2 separate regions of the Homo sapiens genome follow, and region 2 is linked to region 1. Evidence: fine-mapped QTL for protein levels in blood plasma. A gene starts in region 1. The other region holds a variant in brackets. All regions are shown on one strand. Distances are between the middles of the regions. Region 1 holds the start of COMP (cartilage oligomeric matrix protein). Region 2 has its middle 20 kb from the start of COMP.

What was found. PIP is the chance, under the fine-mapping model, that this variant and not a neighbour inherited with it causes the effect. Protein levels are from antibody-based Olink assays in UK Biobank. Linkage for the fine-mapping came from a reference panel and not from the study's own genotypes, which makes the PIPs less certain.
Region 2: its variant is fine-mapped to the plasma level of the COMP protein (UK Biobank, PIP 0.92).

What each region holds. Positions count from the first base shown.
Region 1 is chr19:18,790,299-18,800,705 of GRCh38, reverse strand. It overlaps COMP (cartilage oligomeric matrix protein), which reads left to right and starts at 9,401. Exons shown (of 19, transcript NM_000095.3): 1 at 9,401-9,515; 2 at 9,771-9,856; 3 at 10,093-10,144. The coding sequence starts at 9,437. RefSeq lists enhancers at 4,997-5,526, 9,082-9,660, 9,661-10,241, 10,242-10,407.
Region 2 is chr19:18,802,977-18,819,175 of GRCh38, reverse strand. No RefSeq gene overlaps it. Among named protein-coding and RNA genes, the nearest start is that of COMP, 20 kb to the right of the region's middle. RefSeq lists a silencer at 12,702-12,996. The variant A/G (reference allele first, on the strand shown) is at 10,674.

The sequences.
Region 1 (10,407 bases):
GGGAGGCTCCTTGGAGAGCTGAGAGGTGAGGGTGTGGCCAGAGGGTGGTTCTGTTGGGGTCAACTCTGAGACTCTATCCTGGTGGCACCGTGGATGTGGGATGCCCCAATGGCTTGTCTCTGCCCCCACTGGGGTCCTATAGCTTCCAACTACCCTTCGGTTCTGTGCTTCTGTTGACTGGACTGCGTGGATCTCTAACTCTGTGGTCCCGTGGCCCTAGGACTCCACAGTTCAGTTGCTCCATTAACCAGTGATGTGATTCTGTCATTTCTTAGTCCTGTGGATCCTTGTTTTGTGGTCTTGTAGCTTTTCTTTACTCCATCATCCATCCATCCATCTATCCATCCACCCATTCATCCACTTATCCATCCATCCACTTATCTATCCATCCATCTACTTATCTGTCCATCCATCCATCCATCCATCCATCCATCCACTTCTACATCATCCATCCATTCAGCTGCCTATCCACCTATCCATCCATCCATTTATCCACTTACTCATCCATCCATCCACTTATTCATCTATATACCCACTTATCTATCCATCCACCCATTCATTCATTCATTTATACATCCACTTATGCATCCATTCATCTGTTTATCCATCCATTTATACATTATCCATCCACATGTATAAATGTATCCATTTATCCATTATTTATTCACTTATTCATTCATCCATACAATATATCTCCTTATCCATTCATTTATCCATCCATTCACTTATCCATCCATCCATTCACCCATCCATCTACCTATCCATCCATTCACTTATACATCATTCATCCATCTATTCATCAATTCATTATCTTTGCACCCATCCACCTATCCATCTGTCTATCCAGCCATCCACTTATCCATCCATCTATCCATCCACTTATACATCATCCATCCATCCATTAATCAATCCATTCACTTATTTATCCATTTGCCTATCCATCCATCCATCCATCCATCCACTTATCCATTCATCCATCCATCCATTTATCCATCCATCCATCCATCCATCCATCCATCCACTTGTCCATCCATTCATCCATCCACTTACCCATCCATCCATCCACTTACCCATCCATCCATCCATGCACTTATCCATCCATCCATCCATCCATCCATCCACTTATCCATCCATCCTCCATACATCCATTCATTTATCCATCCATCCATCCATCCATCCACTTATCCATCCATCCATCCACTCATTTATCCATCCATCCATCCATCCACTTATCCATCCATCCATCCACTCATCCATCCATCCACTTATACATCCATCTGTCCATCCATTATTGGAGTATTCCATCATGTGTATATGCAGGGAACACAGAGGGGAACAAGATGGTGGAGCTCAGTCTGATGGAGGAGGCAGCCCCATGACCCGTGTAACCTGGCAGTGCCCATACAGCATGGTCACAGCTCTGATGGAGCACACCAAGGGCCTGTGAAGGCCAGCGGGAGCCTCTAAGCCAGCCGGGGTGAGGAATGAGCCATGTGAAAGCAGACAGGGCACCAGGGAGCGGTCACAGCCCAGGTAAGGGCCTGGCGTGCAGAAAGATGTGGGAATGGACACGCCCATGGAGCCTAAACATGGCTCACAGCCGGAAGATTTCCTCCATTTCCCCTCCCCGCTTGCTGCAGCCACTCCTGACGCCTCGCGGAACCTCCAACACATCAAGCACATACCCACCTCTGGGCCTTTGCCCCTGCTGTGCCCTCTGCCTGGGGCTCTGCTCTGCTGGCACCTGTTCACTTGTTCAACTCTCGGCACCAATTTCCCCAGCAGAATGGCCTCCCTGACCCTTGGCCTCTGTTTCCAGAAGGGGCCCAGCTGGCCCCTTTCCGTGCAGCAGTATTGGGGCTGGGCTCCTCCCTACCTGGGAGCCTCCCTCCCCTACTGGCCCGGCCCTGGCCTGGGCTCCTGTCTGCAGCCGCCGGTGGGTAAACACACCCCGCCCTCGGCCTCCCACGCCATCCATCACTCCCCTGAACAAGGGCCTCCTGTTAATGAGCCCAGGTAGGGGCTGGGAGGGGCACGAGGGGTACTGAGGAACTGCAGTAGTGCTCTGGTCCCTGCACTCTCCACTTTCTCTGCTGACAGCCCACCCTACCTTCTCCAGCGGGAACTGCAGAAGCCTGGTTGGGAGACTCTCTCCTGGAGCCTTAGGCAGCGGTAGGAGGTGACTTCCCACTCTGAGCATCCAGTGACCAAATTGAGGAGACAGGACAGACTTGCTGAGCCTCAGTTTGCCAACCTGTAAAATGGGGATGTTAATAGCTGACATTGATTGAGGGCTCAGCTCTTTCTTTTCCTTTTTTTTTTTTCTTTTTTTTTTGAGACAGAGTCTTACTCTGTCTTACTCTGTCACCCCAGGCTGGAGTGAGAGTGGCATGATCTCAGCTCAGTGCAGCCTCTGCCTCCTGGGCTCAGGCAACGCTCGTGCCTCAGCCTCCTGAGTAGCTGGGATTATAGGCATGCACCACCATGCCTGGCTAATTTTTGTATTTTCAGTAGAGATGGGGTTTCACCATGTTGCTTAGGCTGGTCTCTAACTCCTGACCTCAAGTGATCCACCTGCCTCAGCCTCCCAAAGTGCTGGGATGACAGGCTTGAGCCACCACGCCTGGGCCTTTCCTTTTCTTGAGACAGGGTCTTACTCTGTTACCCAGGCTGGGGTGGGATGACAGGCGTGAGCCACCACGCCTGGGCCTTTCTTTTTCTTGAGACGAGGTCTTACTCTGTTACCCAGGCTGGGGTACAGTGGTACAATCATAGCTCATTACAGCTTCAAACTTCTGGGCTCAAGCCATCCTCCCACCTTAGCCTCCTGAGTAGCTGGGACTACAGGCACATACCACCATGCCTGGCTAATTTTAAATTTTTTTTTTGTTTGTTTGTTTTGTTTTAGAGACAGGGTCTTGCTATATTGCCCAGGCTGGTTTTGAACTCCTAGGTTCAAGCGATCCTCCCACTTCCGCCTCCCAAGCAAGGGCTGTGAACTTTCTGGGCGCTAATTCATTCAATTCTTACACTGACGCTAAGAGGTCAGGATTCTTCTCATACTTATATTCACCTTGGTTTTTCCTGCTACCGTTACCTTGCGTAAAACTTTACACATTTCCATTTTCACTTCATTAGACAGAGAGACTGAAGGAGAGAACAAAGCTTCTACAGTTAGCCCTGAAGGCACTCTCCTCCCCTCAGAACACAGACACTAGTTTATTTGACTGCATGAAACCTTCATTAAATATAGGTGTTATGCCTGTAATTCCAGCTACCCTGGAGGCTAAGATGGAAGGGACACTGGAGCCCAGGAGTTAGAGAGCAGCCTGGGCAACAGAGCAAGACCCTGTCTCTACAAAATAAAAAAAATTAGCCAGGTGTGGTGGCACATGCCTTTGGCCCCAGCTAATCAGGAGGCTGAGGTGTGAGGACGGCTTGAGCCCAAGAGTTTGAGCTACAGTGAGCTGTGTTTGTACCACTGCGGTCCAGCTGGGGTGACAGAGCGGGAACCTACCTCAAAAACAAGAAAGAAATGGAGACAGAGAGGAAGAGAGAGAGACAGGGAGGAGGGAAGAAGGAAGGGAGAGGGGGAGGGAGGAAGGAGGAAGGGAAGGAAGGAAGGAAGGAAAAGAGAAAAAAGAAAGAAACCAGTATCAATTGAATATTGTGAAATTCCTATCTGTTCCTAGTGAATTTTTTTTTTTTTTTTTTTTTTTTTTTTTTTTTTGACACAGAGTCTTACTCTGTCGCCCAGGCTGGAGTGCAATGGTGCAGTCTCGGGTCACTGCAACCTCCGCCTCCTGAGTTCAAGCAATTCTCCCGCCTCAGCCTCCTAAGTAAGTAGCTGGGATTACAGACACCTGCCATCATGCCCGGCTAATTTTTGTACTTTTGTACAGACAGGGTTTCACCATGTTGGCCAGGCTGGTCTTGAACTCCTGACCTCAGGTCATCCGCCCTCCTTGGCCTCCCAAAGTGCTGGGATTACAGACGTGAGCCACCACGCCCGGCCTCTGGTGAAATTCTTTCTCTCCTGAAGCAACTCTTCAGTATAGTAACCTGAGAAGTAAAATTTTACATTATAAGAAACTTTCGAAGGTGGCAAAAAAAAGAAGAAGAAATAAAGGAAAAAAGAAGAAACTGAGGCACAGAGAGGTTAAGCAACTTGCCTCATGTACCACAGCAGAGCTGGGATATGAAACTCAGGCTCTGATGCCAGAGACTGAGACCTTCATCACTGTGCCCCACTGTCTCCCATGATGACAAATTCCTGCCTTCTGGGACTTAAGGGATGACAGAAAGAGAAAACCCACAAAGGCTGAGTGGTAAGGTTTCAAGCATTTGGCACTTGCTCAAGAAAACTGTAGCCACTGTATTTATTGTTGTCTTCTTCCTTTATCGCCATCCAGTAGAGCCTGGGATGCAATGGGGGTAGGGACTGAGTAAAAGGAGAATGGGGCTGGGTGCAGTGGTGCACATCTGTGATCCCAGCACTTTGGGAGGCTGAGGTGGGAGGATCACTTGAGCCCAGAAGTTGGAGGCTGCAATGAGTGAGCTATGATTGTCACTGTACTTCAGGCCAGGCAACAGAGCAAGACCCTGTTTCAAAAAAAAAAAAAAAAAAAAGGAGACTGGGAGAGGAGGTGGCACCTGCCAAAGGTCACACGGCCAGTCGGGGGGCGTCTCCTGGACTTCAAAGCTCAGAGCCCCCCATCCCACCCCTGCCTTTTGTTCCTTCTAGAGAGATGCCTCCAGTACGTCTCTCCCAGTTCAAGGCAGGCTGAGGATGCAGAGGTCGCCAAGCTGCCCTCCCCTGCCGCCCTGATGAATTCCGCAGACTGGGGGCCTACAGCCCGGCCCGCCCAGGGCAGGGCGGCTGCCTTCACAACATACTTTCCTTCTGCATTCACAAAGGCAGGCAACGGTGGGGGCGGGAGGCAGGGAGCCGGGGCGCCCACACGTCTCCTGGCTGAGCAGACGTCTGCCAGGAAGGGCCCCGGGGCCCCATCATGCAGGCACCCGTCCCTCTTCCCCAGCCTGGCCGGGCTCCTGGAACCACGGGGCCTGGTGTGGGGCTGGCTGGGGCGCCGGCCAGATGCTCTGGCCAGGAGGTCCTGGGCCGAGAAGACATCCCAGTTAATGAGGGGCTCGGGCCAGCGAAATGCTGGATTCTGTTTCTGTGGCAAGGACAGAGAGGGCGGGTATGAAGGGCTTGAGGGTCTTGCATGCCTCAGTTCTAATTCTGGCTGTGTGACCTCAGACTGTCTCTTCTCCTCTCTGAGTAAGATAGAAATAAGAACGATCTGAGGTATAAGCGACAGGCACAGGGTATAAGTTTTTTTGTTTTGTTTTGTTTTTTTGAGACAAGGTCTCACTCGGTCGCCCAGGCTGGAGTGCAGTGATGTGATCTCGGCTCACTGCAACCTCTGCCTCCCCGGTTCAAGTGATTCTCCTGCCTCAGCCTCCCGATTAGCTGGGATTACAGGCACGCGCCACCACGTCCAGCTAATTTTTGTATTTTGAGTAGAGATGGAGTTTCACGTTGGCCACACTGGTCTCGAACTCCTGGCCTCAGGTGATCCACCTGCTGTGGCCTCCCAAAGTGCTGGGATTATAGGTGTGAGCCACCACACTGGCCCACGGTGTATAAATTTCATATGGAATAAGCACGCTAGTAGCGCTGGAGCTGGGCGCTGGGCTGAAGGATTTCCATGGGTCAGCTCATTCAATCCTCTCAACAGTGATCATCCTCATTTTATGGGTGAGAAAACTGAAGCACAGAGAGGTTAAGTGACTTGTCCTAGGTCACACAGTAAGGCCATGCTCACCAATATTTGAACCCAGGCTGTGTGGCCCCCTTCCCTGCCATATCAAGTACAGAGGTGGCAGGGGTTACTAGGATTCATATGATAATGTTGGCTGGGTGCAGTGGCTGAAATCCCAGGGTTTTGAGAGGCCGAGGAAGGAGGATCTGTTGAGCCCAGGAGTTCGAGACTAGCCTGGGCAACATAATAAGACCCCCATCTCTATTTTAAAAAAAAAAAAAAATAGTAATGACATTACATTAATTATAAAAAGTAGTAATGGCCAGGCGCGGTGGCTCACGCCTGTAATCCCAGCACTTTGGGAGGCTGAGGCAGGTGGATCACCTGAGGTCAGAAGTTCGAGACCAACCTGGCCAACATGGTGAAACCCCGTCTCTACTAAAAATATAAAAAAATTAGCTGGGCGTGGTGGCAGGTGCCAGTAATCCCAGCTACTCAGGAGGCTGAAGCAGGGGAATCACTTGAACTCAGGAGGCAGAGGTTGCAGTGAGCCGAGATTGCACCATCGCACTCCAGCTGGGCGACAAAAGTGAGACTCCATCTCAAAAAAAAAAAAAAAAAATAGTAATGAACACGAATCATAGGGATGCTGTCCCGGCTCACCAAGCCCTCCAGCCTAACCTTTCTACACCAGTCCAGGCCCCTGGGTGGGAGCCCCTCAGGCTCGGAGGGACAGAGCAAACCACAGACACTCACAGTCCCGAGGATCATGGCTAGGCTGGAAGGTTATCTGGAGAATATCAGCAGGGAAGGCTTCCTGGAGGAGGGGACATTATAGCTGGACCTTGAAGGATGGAGGAGTTTGTACGAGGTGGGGGGAACAGCAGGTACAAAGGCCCAGAATGACACCTACAGTGAGTTATTCTGTAATCTGAGGCAAGTGTGGTGTGCACAGGAGGAGGGGACTGCTGCCTAGAAGGGGGATTTCAGGGCTGGCGAGATCCAGGAGGCAGGAGTGTGACCCCAGACATCCCCTTTCCGGGCCTCTGTTGTCCGATCTTGGGACACCCTCAGGAACTCCACCTTTGTAGTTCCCTCCGCCTGGAATGCCCTTCCCTGCAACTCCCCGTGGCCCAGCCATGGATAAGGCCACGTGTGTCCAAGCCCCAGCACTGTGACCAGCCTGTGGCAGGGGCCTGGCTTCCATGTGCTCCTGTCCTAGCTGTGTGCAGCATATGCCAGCCCCCAGGCCCCACTGGAGCTGTGGTTTTCCCGAGAATTCCAGTGCTGCCAGGAGCGGCCCCCAGGTGTGCTGAAGGCCAAGGAAAACAGGAGGTGAGCTCATGGCCCCAATGTAGGCAGCAGGCAGGGCAGGCACTATTGAGGACAGGCTTCATTGGAAATGCTCTGGCTGGGACCAGCTGCTTCCACCAACACTCCACTTATAGGCCTGTCTCTCTTCACGCACTCTCTGTGGCTCCCCATTACCCTCGGGAGACCACTGGAGCCCCACACCACCAGCACTGCCCTTTCACACACAGCCTCATCTCCTGCTTCTCACTGAGCCCCAAGAGCTTGTCACCTTGAGGTCAGTCCATCCAACGGGCCAGGTTGGTTCCTGCCTCAGGGCCTTTGCCTATGCTGTTTCCTCTACCTGGAATGACTTTCTGCTACCTCTGCCTGGCTGTGTCCTCCTCATCATCCGGTCCTCAGCTTGGTGGTCCCTCCTCCTCCAGAAGCCCGCCCTGACCCATCCCCTTTCAAACAGATCAATTTCCTGGGGACTCCTACCATTGTCTGTGTGTCCCGTCACAGCCATGAGCCCACTGGGCTCCCCATTTGAAGGAGAGACTGGGTCTGGCTTCTTCACCCTGTGTGCCCATCACCCAGCACAGGAGACATGACACACAACAGTCCTTGATGTTTGTGAAATAATTATTGTGTCTAGAAATGTCCCCACCTCCAAGCTTCACATGCTTCCCTCCACCAAAACTGCCCTCACCTTTTCCCTCTGCTGATCCAAGTCCTCCTTTTCTTTTATGTCTGTCTCCTTGCTACCTCCTCCAGGAAGCCCTCGGTGACTTCTCTGTAGGCTCCCCAGAAAACATATCTGGCTCTGAGTCTAGATTCACCCCTGCCCTCGGGCAGTGGCCTTAGGCCAGTCACTTTTTCTCTCTGGGCCTCAGTTTCTCTGTCTATAGAATAGACGCTGTGAGTACTGGAAGGTGGGAGTGGAGAGTGTTAACTGATTGCAGGAGGTTAAGGGGTTTTGTAACTCCAGAGTGTGGCTGGCCAGTTAGCGGTAACTTTTATTTTTATTACAGGCTGTTCCCACAGCAGCTGGAGCACAGTTTGGAAGGTATGGCACAGCCTGGACAAACAGAAGCCCCGGACCTCCCCTTGCTAGAGCCCTTTAACTTGCTCCCCTCCAGATGGGGGCCTCACACCCCATTGCGCAGATTGGAAAACCAAGTGGGCCTGTCCCCTTGGACAGGGGTTGGGGCAAGATCCTGAACGCTGTCCCCTCCTCCACCAGCCGAGGGACCATGGGGAGGGGAGGGAACACCAGCAATGAGTTGGGTTGGGGGGAGTCATTTGCAGCCCTCCAGCGTTGGGGCCAGAAGCGGCCTCCTTGGACAGAGGCAGGAAAATTGAGAGTCCCAGGTCTCAACTGCCCCTCCCCTATTTTCCATTCATCATCATAATCATCATTACTATTAATCATTAATTAATAATTATTAACTTATTACCTCCATTGTGCAAGGGAGGAATTACGCCTGGGTAATTTTTGTACTTTTAGTAGAGATGGGGTTTCACCATGTTAGCCAGGCTGGTCTCAAACTCCTGACCTCAGGTGATCTGCCCGCCTTGGCTTCCCAAAGTGCTGGGATTACAGGTGTGAGCCACCGCACCCAGCAACTTACCCAGTTTTGAAGCACTTCAGGAGGAGTGGAGGGCCAGTCAGTCTGATCCATAGTGGGTGGACCTATTTTTTCAGACGCTGGTGACTCTGTTTCCCGAAGTGTGAGCTGAGAGCGTGGCCATGGAGCCTGCCTTGTTTGGAACTGGAACTCAGGTTTGGCATACAGCAAGCACTCAATCAATCAATCAATCAATGAGCTGAATGCTATGGCTGGATCCTGTAATCCCAGTTATGTGGGGAGTATCGCTTGAGGCCGGGAGTTTGAGACTACTAGCCTGCAGGACATAGCCAGACCCGGTCTCTAAAAATAAAAATAAAAATAAAAATAAATTAGCTGGACTTGGTGGTGCGGGCTTGTAGTCCCAGCTACATGGGAGACTGAAGCAAGAGGATGCGATACAGCCACACCCCGTCACACACACACACACACACACACACAGACGCACACACACAGTGAATGAAAGTGGGGGCAGTACCCCCTGACTCCCTGCCCCACCAGCTCTCTCCACAGACCCCGGGACTCAGTTTCCCCACCATGTCGGATTCAGCCGCGGGCGACTTCGCGGGGCATTCCGGGCGGGGACTTGAACGCAGGGGCCAGCGCCATCTGTTTACCTTGAGGCTGGACGTTGGGCAGGGCTGTGGTGGGCCGTCCCTGGGGCCGGCCGTGCCTTGGGGATAAATAGGCCCCGCGGGCCTCGTGGGCGGTAGAAAGCGAGCAGCCACCCAGCTCCCCGCCACCGCCATGGTCCCCGACACCGCCTGCGTTCTTCTGCTCACCCTGGCTGCCCTCGGCGCGTCCGGACAGGGCCAGAGCCCGTTGGGTAAGCCGCGTTAGCACCCGCGCCGTGCCCACGGCCCCACAACGGACTGTAGGACCCGTGAGAGGCCCGGGATCCAGGCTGTTTGGGGCTCACGGACTGTTCGTAGGGGACGTGCCGGGCGCAGAAAGCAGGTGGCGGGACCGAGACTAGAGGAGCGCAGTGGGGCCTCGGAGGTCCGGGTTCGCTGCAACGGTGGGAGTTGGTGGTGGGATTCCCCGGCCCCATGACGCCTCACCAGGTCCCCTGCCGCCGCAGGCTCAGACCTGGGCCCGCAGATGCTTCGGGAACTGCAGGAAACCAACGCGGCGCTGCAGGACGTGCGGGAGCTGCTGCGGCAGCAGGTGCGGGGCCCGGGTGCGGGGCAGGGAGTGCCAGGGAACGGAAGGGGGTCTCAGTTCCCAGCGAGGAGAGAGGAAGTACCCGAGAAGGTGGAGAGGAGATGGGGAGGGAAGGGGGTCGGCGGGTAGGGAGTCCTTGGCGAAAAGAGGCTGTAGAAAGGGACCCCGGGGTAGAGAGAGGGGAGACCCGAGGGATGAGGAGAGGTTGGGACCCCGCTGATTCCATCCCACCCCTGCAGGTCAGGGAGATCACGTTCCTGAAAAACACGGTGATGGAGTGTGACGCGTGCGGTGAGCGCGGCGGGGCGGTCGGGAGAGAGAAGAGACGGGAGACAGAGACACAGAGACAGAGACAGAGAGCCAGGGAAAGCTGGGGAGGAAAAGAGACGGAAGGAGATGGAGGCTGACGGAGAGGTGGACGGACGAACGGGAATGGGATGGGGTGTGTAGAAACAGAGACAAAAAGAGACAGAAGCGGTGAGAGAGTTTTGGGGAAGTGAGAGACGCCACGGGGCAGAAAAGCGGGACAGAGACTCAGAGAAGAGACCGGGGAG
Region 2 (16,199 bases), 16 kb before region 1:
TAGGAGGTGATCACGGTTAGATGAGGTCATGAGGGGAGTACCGCATGATGGGATCACTGCCCTTGTAAGAAAATACACCGTCTAGTGCTTTGAGAGGCAAAGGTGGGAGGATTGCTTGAGGCCAGGAGATTGAAATCAGCCTGGGAAACACAGCAAGATGTCTCCCTACCAAAAATAAAAGCAAAAACTTAGTCAGGCATGGTGGCACACACCTGTAGTCCTAGATACTTGGAAGGCTGAGGTGGGAGGATCGCTTGAGCCCGGGAATTCAAGGCTGCAGTGAGCTAGGAGCTAGAATGGGGCCATTGCACTCAAGTCTGGGCCACACAGTGAGATCCTGTCTCTGAAAAATAAATAACTAAACAAATACATTCTGTTATTTATCTTTTTATTGTTGATTTATAAGAGTTTTTTTCGGCCGGGCGCGGTGGCTCACGTCTGTAATCCCAGCACTTTGGGAGGCCGAGGCGGGTGGATCACGAGATCAGGAGATCGAGACCATCCTGGCTAACACGGTGAAACCCCATCTCTAGTAAAAATACAAAAAATTAGCCGGGCGTGGTGGAGGCGCCTGTAGTCCCAGCTACTCGGGAGGCTGAGGCAGGAGAATGGCCTGAACCCGGGAGGCGGAGCTTGCAGTGAGCCGAGATCACGCCACTGCACTCCAGCCTGGGCAACAGAACGAGACTCCATCTCAAAAAAAAAAAAAAAAAAAAGTTATTTTTCTATTCTGGATACAAATCTCTTAGCAGGTACATGATTTGCAAATGTTCCCTCCTATTCTGTGAGTTGTGTTTGTTTGTTTGTTATTTTGAGACGGAGTCTCGTTCTGTCACCCAGGCTGGAGTGCAGTGGCACGATCTCAGCTCACTGCAACCTCCACCTCCCGGGTTCAAGCGATTCTCCTGCCTCAGGCTCCTGAGTAGCTGGGATTACAGGCACCTGCCACCACGCCTGGCTAATTTTTATTTTTTAGTAGAGAGGGGTTTCACCATGTTAGGCTGGTTTTGAACTCCTGACTTCGTGATCCGCCCGCCTTGGCCTCCCAAAGTTGTGGGATTACAGGCGTGAGCCAACGCGCCTGGCTCAAATGTCTTTTTAGTATAAGTATGTGCCATGCAACATTTGAGACATACTTAGGCAGAAGCAGTATTTGTTTATCTGCAGTTTACGTTTAACGGGGTTTTCTGTATTTATATTTGCTGAATCCAGCAACTCTTTACTGTCGTCTAGTGGGTAGGGGCCAGGGATGCTCCTAAACATCTATGATGCACGGGACAGTCCCCCACAAAAATTGAACTATCCTGCCCCAAACGTCAACATGCTGAGGTTGCGAAACCTTAGTGTGACACAAAAAACAGGACACCATCAGTTAACAAGCAGTGCCCAGCAATTCTGAGAGCAGGTGGTATCAACCCATTTTCCAGAGGGGGAGATTGAGGCTTGGACAGAGACGTGAGCTGTCTTTGAATCTGGCATGGGGCTTGGGAAGTGGGATTCAACTGGAGACTCTAAAAAATCACCCAAAAGAAATTGTCAGCTGGGCGCAGTGGCTCACGCCTATAATCCCAACACTTTGGGAGGCCGAGAAGGGAGGACCGCTTGAGCACAGGAGTTCGAGACCAGCCTGGCCAACATGGTGAAATCCCGTCTCCACTGAAAATCCAAAAATTAGCCAGGTGTTGTGGCCCATGCCTGTAATCCAGCTACTTGGGAGGCTGAAGCAGGAGAATCACTTGAACCCGGGAGGCGGAGTTTGCAGTAAGCCGAGATCGAGCCACTGCACTCCAGCCTGGGTGACAGAGCGAGACCATGTCTCAAAAAACAACAAAAAAGGGATAATTTGTCCCAGTGGGGACAAAAGGACTTTCAAAGGCACCAAGACTTCCCCTGGATGCAGACATCTCGGATTCGAGGGGCACAGTCTCCGAGGATCACCCTCCACCTCCACCCAGGCACTCAGTTTAAGAGAGTCCTAGGTGGGCCCAGTCATTTGCATTTATTTATTTTTATTTTTTATATATATATTTTTAAAGACAAAGTCTCACTCTGTAGCCCAGGCTGGAGTGCAATGGCGCGATCTCGGCTCACTGCAACCTCCGCCTCACAGGCTCAAGCAATTCTTGGGCCTCAGCCCAAGTAGCTGGGATTACAGGTGCCCACCACCACACCTGGCCAATTTTTTGTATTTTCTGTAGAGAAGGGGTTTCTCCATGTTGGCCAGGCTGGTCTGGAACTCCTGACCTCAAGTGATCTGCCCGCCTCGGCCTCCCAAAGTACTGGGATTACAGGCATGAGCCACCGCATCCGGCTGGCATCTGCATGTAATCCCCTCTCCAGAGGGATTTTCTAGTATGTCATATGGAGAGGCTGAGAATAAAAACAGTGCTTGGTCTAGTCATCACTGGAGGGCCCATGACCACTTTTGTTTACTTGGCTACTAGTTATTTTTTCTCAACCTGTCTTATGGTGCAGATTTTTTTTTCTAGCTATTTTTAAAAACCTAACAAACAATACAGTGATCTTCTCTATCAGTCGGCCCTGCACCTTCAGACGCAACCAAGTGGGGATTAAAAATATTTGGCAGGGGCCAGGTGTAGTGGCTCACGTCTGTAATCTCAGCACTTTGGGAGGCCAAGGCAGGAGGATCGCTTGAGCCCAGGAGTTTGAAAACAGCCTGGGCAACATAGTGAGACCCTGTCTCTACAAAAAATTTTGACATATTAGCTGGGCATGGTGATGTGGGCCTGTAGTCCCCACTACTCAGGAGGCTGAGGTGGGAGAATTGCTTGAGCCTAGAAGGTCGAGGATGCAGTGAGCTGAGATCACACCACTGCACTGCAGCCTGGGCGACAGAGCGAGACCCTGTCTCAAAAATAAAAATAAAAACTGGGCCAGGCATAGTGGCCTCACGCCTGTAATCCCAGCACTTTGGAAAGCCAAGGCAGACGGATCACCTGAGGTCAGGAGTTTGAAACCAGTCTGGCCAACATGGCAAATCCCCGTCTCTACTAAAAATATGAAAATTAACCAGGCATGGTGGTGAGTGCCTGTGATTCCCAGCTACACAGGAGGCTGAGGCAGGCGAATCACTTGAACTCGGGAGGCCGAGGTTGCAGTGAGCTGAGATCGCACCATTGCACTCCAGTCTGGGCAACAGAGCAGGACTCCATCTCAAAAGATAAAAAGAAAAAGAAAAAAGAAAAACTGAAATGTGTTGCTTATAGTTCTTGAGCCCGGGAAGTTCAAGATGAAAGTGCTGGCAGACATATGACACATCACTGTGTTCAAACCACAGGGGATGGAGATAGTGAGTCTGGGTCAACTACATCACGTCTGAATTCACATGTCTGCCCAGCCATCTGCTTGCTGTGTGACCTCTCTCCAATGTCTTGGTCTCTCTGTGTTTCACCTGAGAAATGGAATCTAGTGACACCCCCAACACCCCAGAGAGTGATACATGAGGGGCATATGGTGGCACCTGGTATCTGACCAGCCGCCACTGAGCAGGAGCTATTTATGAATGCTTGCGTTCTTTTCTTTGTCTAAATTGTGACGATTCATTATTGAATATATATTTTTTGAGACAGGATCTTGCTCTGTTGCCCAGGCTGGAGTGCAGGCTGGTGGCACCGTGATGGCTCATTGCAGCCTTGATCTCTTGGGTTCAAGCAATCTTCCTGCCTCAGCCTTTCAAGCAGGTGGGACTACAGACACGGGCCACCATGCCTGGCTACATTTTTCACTTTTTTTTTTTTTGAGACAGAGTTTCACTCTAGTCCAGGCTAGAGTGCAATGGTGAGATCTTGGCTCACTGCAACCTCCTCCTCCTGAGTTCAAGCGATTCTCCTGCCTCAGCCTCCCAAGTAGCTAGGGTTACAGGCATGCGCCACCACGCCCGGCTAATTTTGTATTTTTAGTAGAGATGGGGTTTCTCCATGTTGGTCAGGCTAGTCTTGAACTCCCGACCTCAGGTATCCAGCCCGTCTCGGCCTCCCAAAGTGATGGGATTACAGGTGTGAGCCACCGTGCTTGGCCAATTTTTTTTACTTTTTTATAGAGACAGGGTCTCACCATGTTGCCCAGGCTTGTCTCAAACTCCTGGGTTCAAGTGATCCTCCTGCCTTGGCCTCCCAAAGTGCTGGGATTACAGGCATAAGCCACTGCACCCGGCTCATTATTGAAACTTTTTAAAAGTTTCAGACAAATTGAAGTCTCCATGGGTCTTTATCACAAGTGTCTCTCTCGCCCAGTCTAGGCCGGGTTCCAGACAGAATGAGGCCAACCTTGCCAGGCATGGTGGCATGCACTTGTAGTCCCAGGTTCTCAGGAAGCTGAGGCAAAAGGATCCCTTCAGCCTAGGAATTCTAGACCAGCCTGGGCAATATAGCAAGATCCCATCTCAAAAAAAAAAAAATGAATGAGGCTGGGCACCGTGGCTCATGCCTGTAATCCTAGCATTTTGGGAGGCCCAGGTGGGCGGATCACTTGAGTTCAGTTCAAGACCAGCCTGGCCAACCCAGCAAAACCCCGTCTCTACTAAAAATACAAAAAATTAGCCAGACCTAGTGGCGCTCACCTGTAGTCCCAGCTACTCGGGAGGCTGACGTAGGATAATCGCTTGAACCCGGGTGGTAGAGGTTGCAGTGAGCCGAGATCACACCACTGCACTCCAGCCTGGGCAACAGAGCAAGACTCCATCTCAGAAAAAAAAAGAAAAGAAAAAAATATTGAATGAGGCCATCCCTAGCACTGTCCTGCTTGAAGACCTAAATCAGCCTGGTCACGCCCCTGAGCCTGGAGTCCTAAATTTATAACCTACCCTGTGCCCTGTGTCTGCTCTCAACGTAGGCTGGCCCCTCCTCGAGTTCCACATCAGCTTCCCCAGGTCCAGGAAAATGGAATTTTTCCTTCATACCAAGAGAGGTCCCTCGAGGGTAAGCGTTGGCCCTGGCCGCTGCAGAGAAATTCCACGGCTTTGGGAAAAGGATATTTAGGATATTGCAGTGGCTTCTCCCAGCCCAGACTTGGGTCTCTTTAAAATCCACTTTGTTGGCAGGGCACGGTGTTTCATGCCTATAATCCCAGCACTTTGGGAGGCTGAGGCGGGCAGATCACTTGAAGGTCAGGAGTTCGAAACCAGTCTGGGCAACATGGTGAAATCCCGTCTCTACTAAAAAATACAAAAATTAGCCAGGCGTGGTGGTGGGTGCCTGGAATCCCAGCTACTCGGGAGGCTGAGGCAGGAGAATCGCTCGAACCAGGGAGACGGAGGTTGCAGTGAGCCGAGATCACGCCACTACACTCCAGCCTGGGTGACAGAGTGAGACTCCATCTCAAAAAAAGGAAAAAAAAGAAACCCTTTTTGTTGAGCTCCCAGCTTCCACAGACGTGGCCCTCGCGGTGGCTGCCCTTGCAGAAGTGTGGCCAGTTCGGGTGGACCCGGGACCCTCCATGTACAGCACTCCTCCCTAGGAACAGTGGGTGCTTGCGGGTTCCTGTGGGCCCCTCCTCTGTGGCCCCATTCCTGTTTCAAAGGAGCCCCTTGTGGGATCTGGATACACAGCCAAGCCTCAGGCACACCCGGGCATGCTGGTAGTGAAAAGAAAAATAGGTGTGTGTGTGTCTGTGTTAGAGCTCTCCTTGCTTTGAACAGTGTCTTTGAAGGGGATGGTGGGTCTGTGTAAACCTCAGGTGGCGGGGGCAAGCCGGCAGCCACCTTGATTCTACGATCACAGGTTGCTTTTTTGGGGATGTGCTAGCGTGTCAGGGAGGTGGGTTTTGGCTTGGCCTCAAAGCTTTGGTTGCTGCAGAGACTCAAGGCTGCTATTGAGGGTGGTAAAGGTTGCTGACAGTGTCTGGAGAGGAAGGTAGCCCCTGCAGACCCCTTGGAATTCCCGAGCCAGGCTTCAGGCTGGGATATATTTTGTTTTTTGTTTTTGTTTTTATTTTTGTTTTGAGACAGAGTTGTGCTCTGTCTCCCAGGCTGGAGTGCAGTGGCACGGTCTCAGCTCACTGCAACCTCCACCTCCGGGGTTCAAGCGATTCTTCTGCCCCAGCCTCTCTAGTAGCTTGGATTACAGGCGTGCACCACTACACCCAGCTAATTTTTTGTATTTTTAGTAGAGAAGAGGTTTTACCATGTTGACCAGACTGGTCTCAAACTCCTGGCCCCAAGTGATCCGCCCACCTTGGCCTCCCAAAGTGCTGGGATTACAGGCATGAGCCACCGCGCCCAGCCTGGGATATATTTTGGATGGAAGTTCACTGTGGCTGTTTTATTATTGTTGGTTTGCTTGTTTGAGACGGGGTTTCGCTCTGTCACTCAGGCTGAAGTGCAGTGGCGCGATCATAGCTCACTGCAGCCTTGACTTCCCAAGCTAAAGTGATCCTTCCACCTCAGCCTCTTCAGTAGATGGGACTACAAGCATGGGCCACCACACCTGGCTAATTTTTTAATTTTTTGTAGAGTCAGGGGTCTTGTTATGTTGTTCAGGCTGGTCTCAAACTTCTGGCCTCAAATAATCATCCTGCCTCAGTCTCCCAAAGTGCTGGGATTACAGGCATGAGCCACCACATCCGGCTACCGAGGCTGTTTTGGAAGGTGTGATGGTGGGAAACCAAATACACTTCCCTGTGGGCCCTGTGGACCCCCACCCTATATACACATCGAGGTGGGTGTCACTGTCCCCAATTCACAGACGACCATGTGGCCTCATGTAGCCGACTCTAGTAGAGAGAAGAACAATAACAAAGCCATCAGGAATAAGAAACTGGTGTCATGTGTTAGAAGGTGACAAGATCAAACGAGAGATGTTCTGGCTCTCACCTGTAATCCCAACTCTTTGCAAGTTCGAAGCAGGAGGATCGCTTGAGCCCAGGCGGTCAAGACCTGCCTAGGCAACATGGCGAAAACCCATCTCTACAAAAAAATGCAAAAATTAGTGGGATGTGGTGGTGCGTGCCTGTAATCTCAGCTACTCGGGAGGCTGAGGCAGGACAATCGCTTGAACTCGAGAGGTGAAAGTTGCGGTGAGCCAAGATTGTGCTACTACACGCCAGCCAGTGTGACAGAGTGAGACTCTATCTCAAGAAAAACAACGAGGCCAGGCACAGTGGCTCACGCCTGTAATCCCAGCACTTTGGGAGGCCGAGGCAGGTGCATCATGAGGTCAGGAGTTCGAGACCTGCCTGGCCAATATGGTGAAACCCCATCTCTACTAAAAAATACAAAAATTAACGGAGCATGGTTGGTGCGCACCTGTAATCTCAGCTACTCAGGAGGCTGAGGCAGGAGAATCACTTGAACCTGGGAGGTGGAGGTTGCAGTGAGCTGAGATTGCGTCATTGTACTCCAGCCTGGGCCAGAGTGAGACTCCATCTCAAAAAGAAAGAAAGAAAAACAAAAACAAAAAAACAAAAAAAAAGACATCACTGGCTTCCTGGGTCCACAGTTTGCAGCCAGCAGATAGTAGGACTTCTCAGCCTCCATAAGTGTGTGAGCCAATCCCTCACAATAAATCTTTTTCTATCAATACATGCCTATCCAATTGCTTCTATTTCTCTAAAAAACCCTGACTAGCTGCTTTTAAAAATATGAGGTCTAGGCCAGGCACAGTGGCTCATGTTTGTAATCCCAGTATTTTGGGAGGCTGAGGCTGGCAGATCACCTGAGGTCAGAAGTTCAAGGTCACCCTGGCCAACATGGTGAAATGCTGTCTCTACTAAAAATACAAAAAATTAGCTGGGCGTAGTGGTGGGCCCCTGTAATCCCAGCTACTCAGGAGGCTGAGGCAGGAGAATCGCTTGAATCTGGGAGGCAGAGGTTGCGGTGAGCTGAGATCACACCATTTCACTCCAGCCTGGGCGACAGAGCTACTCAGCCTCCTGAGTAGCTGGGACTACAGGCATGAGCCACCAAGCCGGACTAATTTTGTTTGTTTGTTTGTTTGTTTGTTATGTTTTATAGAAACAGAGTTTCACCGTGTTGCCCAGGCTGGTCTCAAACTCCTGAGCTCAAAGAGATCCACCCATCTTGGCCTCCCAAAGTGCTGGGATTATAGGCATGAGCCACGGTGCCAGGCCAATAACAGCACTGTTTAAAATTGTGAGAAAGGAAGTAGGCGTGATGGCTCACGCCTGTAATCCCAACACTTTGGGAGGCTGAGGCGGGCAGATCGCCTGAGGTTGGGAGTTTGAGACCAGCCTGACCAACGTGGAGAAACCCCGTCTCTACTGAAAATACAAAATTAGCCGGGCATGGTGGCACATGCCTGTAATCCCCGCTCCTCGGGAGGCTGAGGCAGGAGAATCACTTGAACCCGGGAGGCGGAGATTTTGGTGAGCTGAGATCGCACCATTGCACTCCAGCCTAGGTGACAGAGCGAAACTCCATCTCAAAAAATAAATAAATAATAAAAAGAAAAAGAAAAAATAAGCCAGGCATAGTGGCATGAACCTGTAGTCCCAACTATTTTGGGGGCCGAGGCAGGAGGATCATTTGAGCTCAGGATGTTGAAGCTGCCATGAGCCATGATCACGCCACTGCACTCCAGTCTGGGTGACGGAGAGTTACCCTGCTGTCCCCTAAAAAAAGGCTGGACTCGGTGGCTCACGCCTGTAATCCCAGCACTTGGGAAGACCAAGGTTGGCAGATCACTTGAGGTCAGGAGTTCGAGACCAGCCTGGCCAACATGGTGAAGCCCTGTCTCTATTAAAAATACAAAAATTAGGGCCGGACGTGGTGGCTCATGCCTGTAATCCCAGCACTTTGGGAGGCTGAGGCAGATGGATCATGAGGTCAGGAGATTGAGACCAGCCTGGCCAATATGGTGAAATCCCATCTCTACTAAAAAATACAAAAATTAACCGGGCGTGGTGGCATGCACCTGTAGTCCCAGCTACTTGGGAGGCTGAGGCAGGATAATCGCTGGAACCTGGGAGGCGGAGGTTGCAGTGAGCCGAGACTGTGCCACTGTACTCCAGCCTGGGTGACAGAGTGAGACTCCATCTCAAAAAGGAAAAAAAAAAACACAAAACAATACAAAAATTACTGGGGTGTGGTGGCACGCACTTGTAGTCTCAGCTACTCAGGAGGCTGAGGCAGAAGAATCTCTGAAACCCAGGAGGCGGAGGTTGCAATGAGCCGAGATCACGCCACTGCACTCCAGCCTGGGCGACAGAGTGAGACTCTGTCTCAAAAATAAAATAAATAAATAAAAGGAAATTAAATAACCAAAAAGTAGAAATGATCCAAATGTCCCTCAACAGACGAATGGATAAACAAAATGTGGTCCATCTATGCAATGGAATATGATTCAGCCACAAAAAGGAATGAAGTACAAAACAAAAACAAAACAAAAGAGGAAGGATGCACTGCTCCCTGCTACAGCATGGACGAACCCCAAAAACACATGCCAAGTGAAAGATGCCAGACACGAAATGTCACATAGTGTGTGATTCCATTTGTAGGAAATGGCCAGAACTGGCAAATCCACAGAGACAGAAAGCAGATTTGTGGTTGCCAGGGCCTGGGGAGAGGAAGGGGGAGTGACCGCTGATGGGAACGGAGCGTCTTTACGGGGTGACGAAATAGTCTGGAAGTAGATCGAGGTAGTGATTGCACAACATGGTGTGTGCACTGAATGCCAGGGAATTGTGCACTTTATTTTATTTTATTTTATATATTTTTTGAGACTGAGTCTCACTCTGTTGCCCAGGCTAGAGTGCAGCTTCCAGGGGTCAAGCAGTTCTCCTGCCTCAGCCTCCTGAGTGGCTGGGATTACAGGCACGGGCCACCACACCAGAAAACCGGTTTTGGAGCCACTCTGTGTGTTGCGTTCTGACCCTGTCACTTATTCCCTTGCACCATCTCAGGCAAGCAGCTTCCCCCCAAGCCTCCATGTTCAGCTCTGGGAATGGGGTCACATGAAGCCCCCCCTTCCACCTTTCCACGAGCTCCCAAAGAATAGTGACAGATCCTCCTTGTTCCCATTTGCGCCCCAGCACCCGATGCAGAAATGGGCACACTCTGGGAAAAAAGTAGACTGTTGAATGAATAAACGATGGAAAAACGCATCAGCTCCAAGGTTGAGCTCCCAACCTCTATTTTTCTTTTTCCTTTCCTCTTTTCTTTTCTATTTTCTTTCTTTTCTTTTTTGAGACAGAGTCTTACTCTGTCACCCAGGCTGGAGTGCAGTGGTGAGATCTCAGCTCGCTGTAACCTCCGCCTCCCAGGTTCAAGAGATTCTTGTGCCTCAGCCTCCTGAGTAGCTGGGATTATAGGCATGTGCCAGCATACCAGGCTAATTTTTGTATTTTTAGTAGAGACGGGGTTTCATCATGTTGGCCAGCCTGGTCTCGAACTCCTGACCTTAGGTGATCCATTCACCTCAGCCTCCCAAAGTGCTGGGATTACAGGCATGAGCCAGTGTGCCCGGCCCCCAACCTCTATTTTTTGAGGGAGTTGCTCCCTGGTCAGGGGGACAAGGGCAGGGGAAACTTTCCTTAGCTGGAAAAACCCTGCAGAGGCCAGGAGCAATGCCTCATGCCTGTCATCCTAGCACTTTGGGAGGCCGAGGCAGGAGGATCACATGAGCCCAGGAGTCCAAGACCAAACTGGGCAACATAGGGAGATCCCATCTCTACAAAAAGTTTTGGAAAGTTAGCCAGGC[A/G]TGGTGGCAAGAGACTGTAGTCCCTGCTACTCAGGAGGCTGAGGCAGGAGGGTCGCTTGAGCCTAGGAGGTGGAGGCTGCAGTGAGCCGAGATCGCACCACTGCACCCCAGCCTGTTCAGCCTGGGTGACAGCGCAAGACCCTCTCTCAAAAAAAAGGAAAAAAAAAAAAACCCTGCAGAACCCGGGCCTCCAAGGAGGGCATGGCAGGGCGGGCCGGGTCCGAGCCGCTTCAGCAGGAGGAACAGTGGTATGACGAGCCCTTTCCACTCTGTGGTCAGACTCCCAGCCCGGAGAGCAATAAAACAGCCCTGCTCAGACTGGAAACATTTTCCTTTCATGTGTTTCTGGAGGCGCTGGCATGGTCCACGAGGAAAATTCCAGCGGAATAAGAAGAAATGTCTTCAGCATCCACCGAGGGCCAGGAAGGGGTAGTCAGGCCGGGAAGGGGTAGTCAGACCCGGGCCTCGGGGGAACCCAGCCATGCTGGGGGGAGGCCTCGAGGCCCAGGCAGGGCCAGGCAGCTGTCAGCGCATTATCTGGGTCTGGGAGGCTCCTGTGGACGACAGACCTCCCCAGCCCCGTGGTGGTGAGGATAGCGGGTGGCCTGGCCTGTTGGAGACAGCTCTCCTCAGGAATTCACATAAAACTGCTTTGAGATGTGTCTACCATGCATGTTGAGCCCATGGGGTTCCCAGGTCTGGGAGGGAGCCTCTCGGTACCTGGCACAGGACGAGGGGGTACAGGTCTGATGTGCCTTCTGCTCACATACCTCCCATGGCTCCCCATTGCCCTGGGATGGAGTCCAAGTCCCATCGTCCCAGGGCTTGTGGGCCCTTCCAGCAGTATGGCCCTTTCTCCCCTCACTCTGTGTGAGTTGGGCCCCTCTACACACAGTTCCAGAAACACTCCATCGTTCTCTGTCGCCTCCAAGCCTTTACACACGCTGGTCCCCCCACCCGAGCACCCTCTGTGGCCTCTTACCAGGCCAATTCTCATCTCTCCTTCAGTCGCAGCATAGCAGTCCCTCCTGCTGACCCTCCATAGCTGCCTGTGCGCCTCCAGCATGACTCAAACCACTCTGCCATTTATTTATTTTATTTATTATTGTTTTTTAATTTTATTTATTTATTTTTGAGACGGAGTCTCGCTCTGTCACCCAGGCTGTAGTGCAATGGTGCAATCTCAGCTCACTGCAACCTCCGCCTCCTGAGTTCAAGCAATTCTCCTACCTCAGCCTTCCAAGTAGCTGGGATTACAGGTGCCTGCTACCATATCCAGCTAATTTTTGTATTCTTAGTAGAAACGGGGTTTCTTTTCTTTTTTTCTTTTTTTTTTTAGACAGAGTCTCGCTCTGTCACCAGGCTGGAGTGCAGTGGCGCGATCTCGGCTCACTGCAACCTCCGCTTGCTGGGTTCAAGCAATTCTCATGCCTCATCCTCCTGATTAGCTGGGATTACAGGAACGTGCCACCACACCCAGCTAATTTTTGCATTTTTAGTAGAGACGGGGTTTCATCATGTTGGGCAGGATGGTCTCGATCTCCTGACCTCGTGATCCACCCACCTTTGTCTTCCCAAGTGCTGGGATTACAGGCATGAGCCACCGCGCCCAGCCGAAACGGGGTTTCACCATATTGGCCAGGCTGGTCACGAACTCCTGACCTTAGCCCCACCTCAGCCTCCCAAAGTGCTGGGATTACAAGCATGAGCTACCATGCCTGGCCTAATTTTTTTTTAAGAGATGAGGTCTCGGCCGGGTGCTGTGGCTCACGCCTGTAATCCCAGCACTTTGGGAGGCCAAGGCAGGCAGATCATGAAGTCAGGAGTTCGAGACCAGCCTGACTAACATGGTGAAACCCCGTCTCTACTAAAAATACAAAAGTTACCTGGGCGTCATGGTGCGCACCTGTAATCCCAGCTACTCAGGAGGCTGAGGCAGGAGAATCGATTGAACCCAGGCGGCAGAGGTTGCAATGAGCCAAGACCACGCCATTGCATTCCAGCCTGGGCAACAGAGGGAGACTTTGTCTCAAAAAAAAAAAAAAAAAAAAGAGGTGAGGTCTCATAATGTTATCCAGGCTGGCCTTGAACTCCTGGTCTCAAGTGATCCTCCTACCACGGCACTCCCAAAGTGCTGGGATTATAGGCATGAGTCACTGTGCCTGCCTATTATTTATTTATGTATTTATGTATTTATTTTGAAATGGAGTCTTGCTCTGTCGCCCAGGCTGGAGTGCAGTGGCACAATCTCTGCTTATTGCAAGCTCCGCCTCCCAGGTTCACGCCATTCTCCTGCCTCAGCCTCCTAAGTAGCTGGGACTACAGGCACCTGCCACCACGCCCGGCTAATTTTTTTGTATTTTTAGTAGAGACGGGGTTTCACCATGTTAGCCAGGAGGGTCTTGATCTCCTGACCTTGTGATCTGCCCACCTTGGCCTCCCAAAGTGCTGGGATTACAGGCGTGAGCCATCGCGCCCGGCCCTATTTTTTTTTTTTTTTTTTTTTTTTTTTTTTTTTTAGAGAAGGAGTCTTGCTCTGTCGCCCAGGCTGGAGTGCAGTGGTGCAATCTCAGCTCACTGCAATCTTTGCCTCCCAGGTTCAAGAAATTCTCCTGCCTCAGTCTCCCGAGTAGCTGGTACTACAGGCACACACCGCCACACCTGGCTAATTTCTTTTGTATTTTAGTAGAGATGGGGGTTTCACCATGTTGCCCAGGCTGGTCTTGAACTTCTGGTCTTAAGTGATCCTCCCACCATGGCCTCCCAAAATGCTGGGATTACAGATGTGTGCCACTGTGACCAGCCTCACTCTGCCATTTATTGAGGGCAAATTTCTGGGTTGTAGGCCAGGTGTGGTACCTCACACCTGTAATCCTAGCACTTAGAGAGGCCAAGGTGGTTGGATCACTTGAGCCCAGGAGTTTGAGACCAGCCTGGGCAACACAGCAAGACCTTGTCTCTACAAAATATAAAAATTAGCTGGACAGGGTGATATGTGCCTATGGTCCCAGCTACTTGAGAGGCTGAGGTGGAAAGATCACCCAAGCCCAGGGGGTCGAGGCTGCAGTGAGCCGGGATTGCACCACTGCACTTCAGCCTGGGCGACAGAGCGAGACTCCAGCTCATAAATAAATAAATAAATAAAGTTCTGGTTGTAAATCCTGGGGCACTGCTGGGGGAGGTCTGGGGGTCTCAGAGGGTATATGTTTGTGAAACTTTGTTGTGATAGCCAGCATCCTCCTTTGTCCCCAAGGAGACAATCTCACCTAGTATATGCCAGGTACAATGGCACAAACTGCGGATAAACCACGTTCCCAACCTCATGAAAATGTAGCCGAGAAGATCATTTCCAAGAGTGAGAAGTGTCTGAAAGAAATACCTGGGTGTAGGTATTTTTGCCCATGGGTTGGGAAAGGTCTCCTGAGGTGTTGACATTTAAGCCAAGTCCTGGGTCACAGAAGGGTATTTTATGTAAATATGAAGGAAGGGGCTGGGCGCAATGGCTCACACCCATAATCCCAGCACTTGGGAGGCAAAGGTGGGTGGATCACTTGAGGTCAGGAGTTCAAGACCAGCATGACCAGCATGGGGAAACCCCATCTCTGGCCTGGGAGCCCTACAGACCGGGGCCAACCTTGACTCGCCTCATGGGTCCCCACTGCCTGGGCCAGGGCTTGGCAGGCAGGTAGATGCTGCACTTGACCTTGAACGTGGATGCGCTTCTACAGCAATGCCCTGTGTTCCAGACGGGAAGCCGAGTCTCCCCTTGTGCCCGGAGAGATGTGGGGACCCAGCTTTTTGGCCTTCTGATCAGGCCCCTCTGCAGGTCTCAGGCCTGTGGGCTGGCAGGGGCCCCAGGGCCTGTTTTTTCCGCCTGGTGTTGGGATTGACGTCTTGAAGGGGCAACGCCTTGGTGCTGGTGATTATTTTTTTAACCTTTGCAGATTCAGCCAGAGACTCGAAATCAAAGCCGTTCTGCCCCCCAGCCCCAGCCGGGCCACAGCCAGCGAGGCCACATGGAGGCCTGACCTGTTGGATGACGGGCCACTGGCCTCCCCAGACCGCACGGTCCAAGGGTTGCGTCCAACTCCACATCTGGACTTTTCGAATTGGTCGTGGCTTCCAACTGGAACAAAAGGACCCGGGATGGGGAAAACATGGGTTCCCCCTGCCCCACCCCACCTGTTTGCACAAAGGATGGGGATCAAGGACGCAGCCAGAGACCCCTGCCCATCTCCCTGCAACGCACACAGCCCAGGCCTGGAAGTCACAGGCCACTCTTTGCCCACAAGGTCCACGGTTCCATCTGGAGCCTGGCCAGCCCAGACCAGACACCTCAGCAACAACATGGCCAAGGTGGGGTTCATGGTTTTCTGCTAAGTCTTCCTGTGTCGGGCAACAACCCTACCAACCACCTTGTGATGGGTTCAAGATCTGGGCGCGTCTGAGACTCCTCCCTCCCTTCCTTCCCAAGCTCATCAGTAGCTCTAGTCCTCTCAGGCTTCAAAACAAACAAATCTAACCTCTCCTCCCCACCCTGTGGCCGTGCCCTGGCCCTGGCCCCACCAGCTCTTGCCTTGACATTGCCTGGCCTCTTCCCCATTGCAGCCACAAGAGATGGCTTAAAATCATAAATCATGTTCCTCCCCTGCTCACACACTCTCCATGGCTCCCTATTGCTCTCAGAATAAAACCCACCTCCTTGCTGCAGCTTGCAAGGCCCCCATGTGATCCCACCTTGGCCCATCTCTCTAACCCATCTCCCCCCTCCTCCCTCACTCTGCTCCAGTCACATCGGCCTCCTCACCTCCTCCAACAAGAAAATTACTTCCTACCCCAGGGCCTTTGCACAAGCTCACCTCTCTGCCTGGAATTCCCTTCCTTAATTTTTGTTGTTGTTGTTGCTGTTGTTTTTGTGACAGGATCTCACTCTGCCACCCAGGCTGGAGTACAGTGGCACGATCATAGCTCACTGCAACCTCTGCCTCCCCAGGCTCAGGTGATCCTCCCACCTCAGCCCCCTGAGTAGCTGGGATTATAGGCAGGCACCACCACGCCCCGCTAATTTTTGTAGTTTTAGTAGAGACGGGGTTTCACCAAGTTGGCCAGGCTGGTCTCGAACTCCTGACCTCAGGTGATACACCCACCTTGGCCTCCCAAAGTGATGGGATTACAGGCATGAGCCTCCGCACCTTGGCCCACCAGCAGCAATTTGGAAAGAAACTGGTGGTGGGGACTCTTCCAGGTAATGCCTGTTTCCTTGTGATGCTTAAGGTGGCTTGGTACCCAGGGGAGGTCGGGAGGCCAGCAGAGTAAGGAAGAACCCACCTTCCTGCAAGCAGAGGGCAGTAAGAAGGGGCCTCAAATACAGCAGCCGGAGGTAGAGACAGGGGATGGGGCTTGGCACATGGCCAGGGTCACCCCGTTAAAGCTACTCAGGCCAGGCACGGTGGCTCACACCTGTAATCCCAACATTTTGGGAGGCCGAGGAGGGCGGATCATCTGAAGTAAGGAGTTTGAGACCAG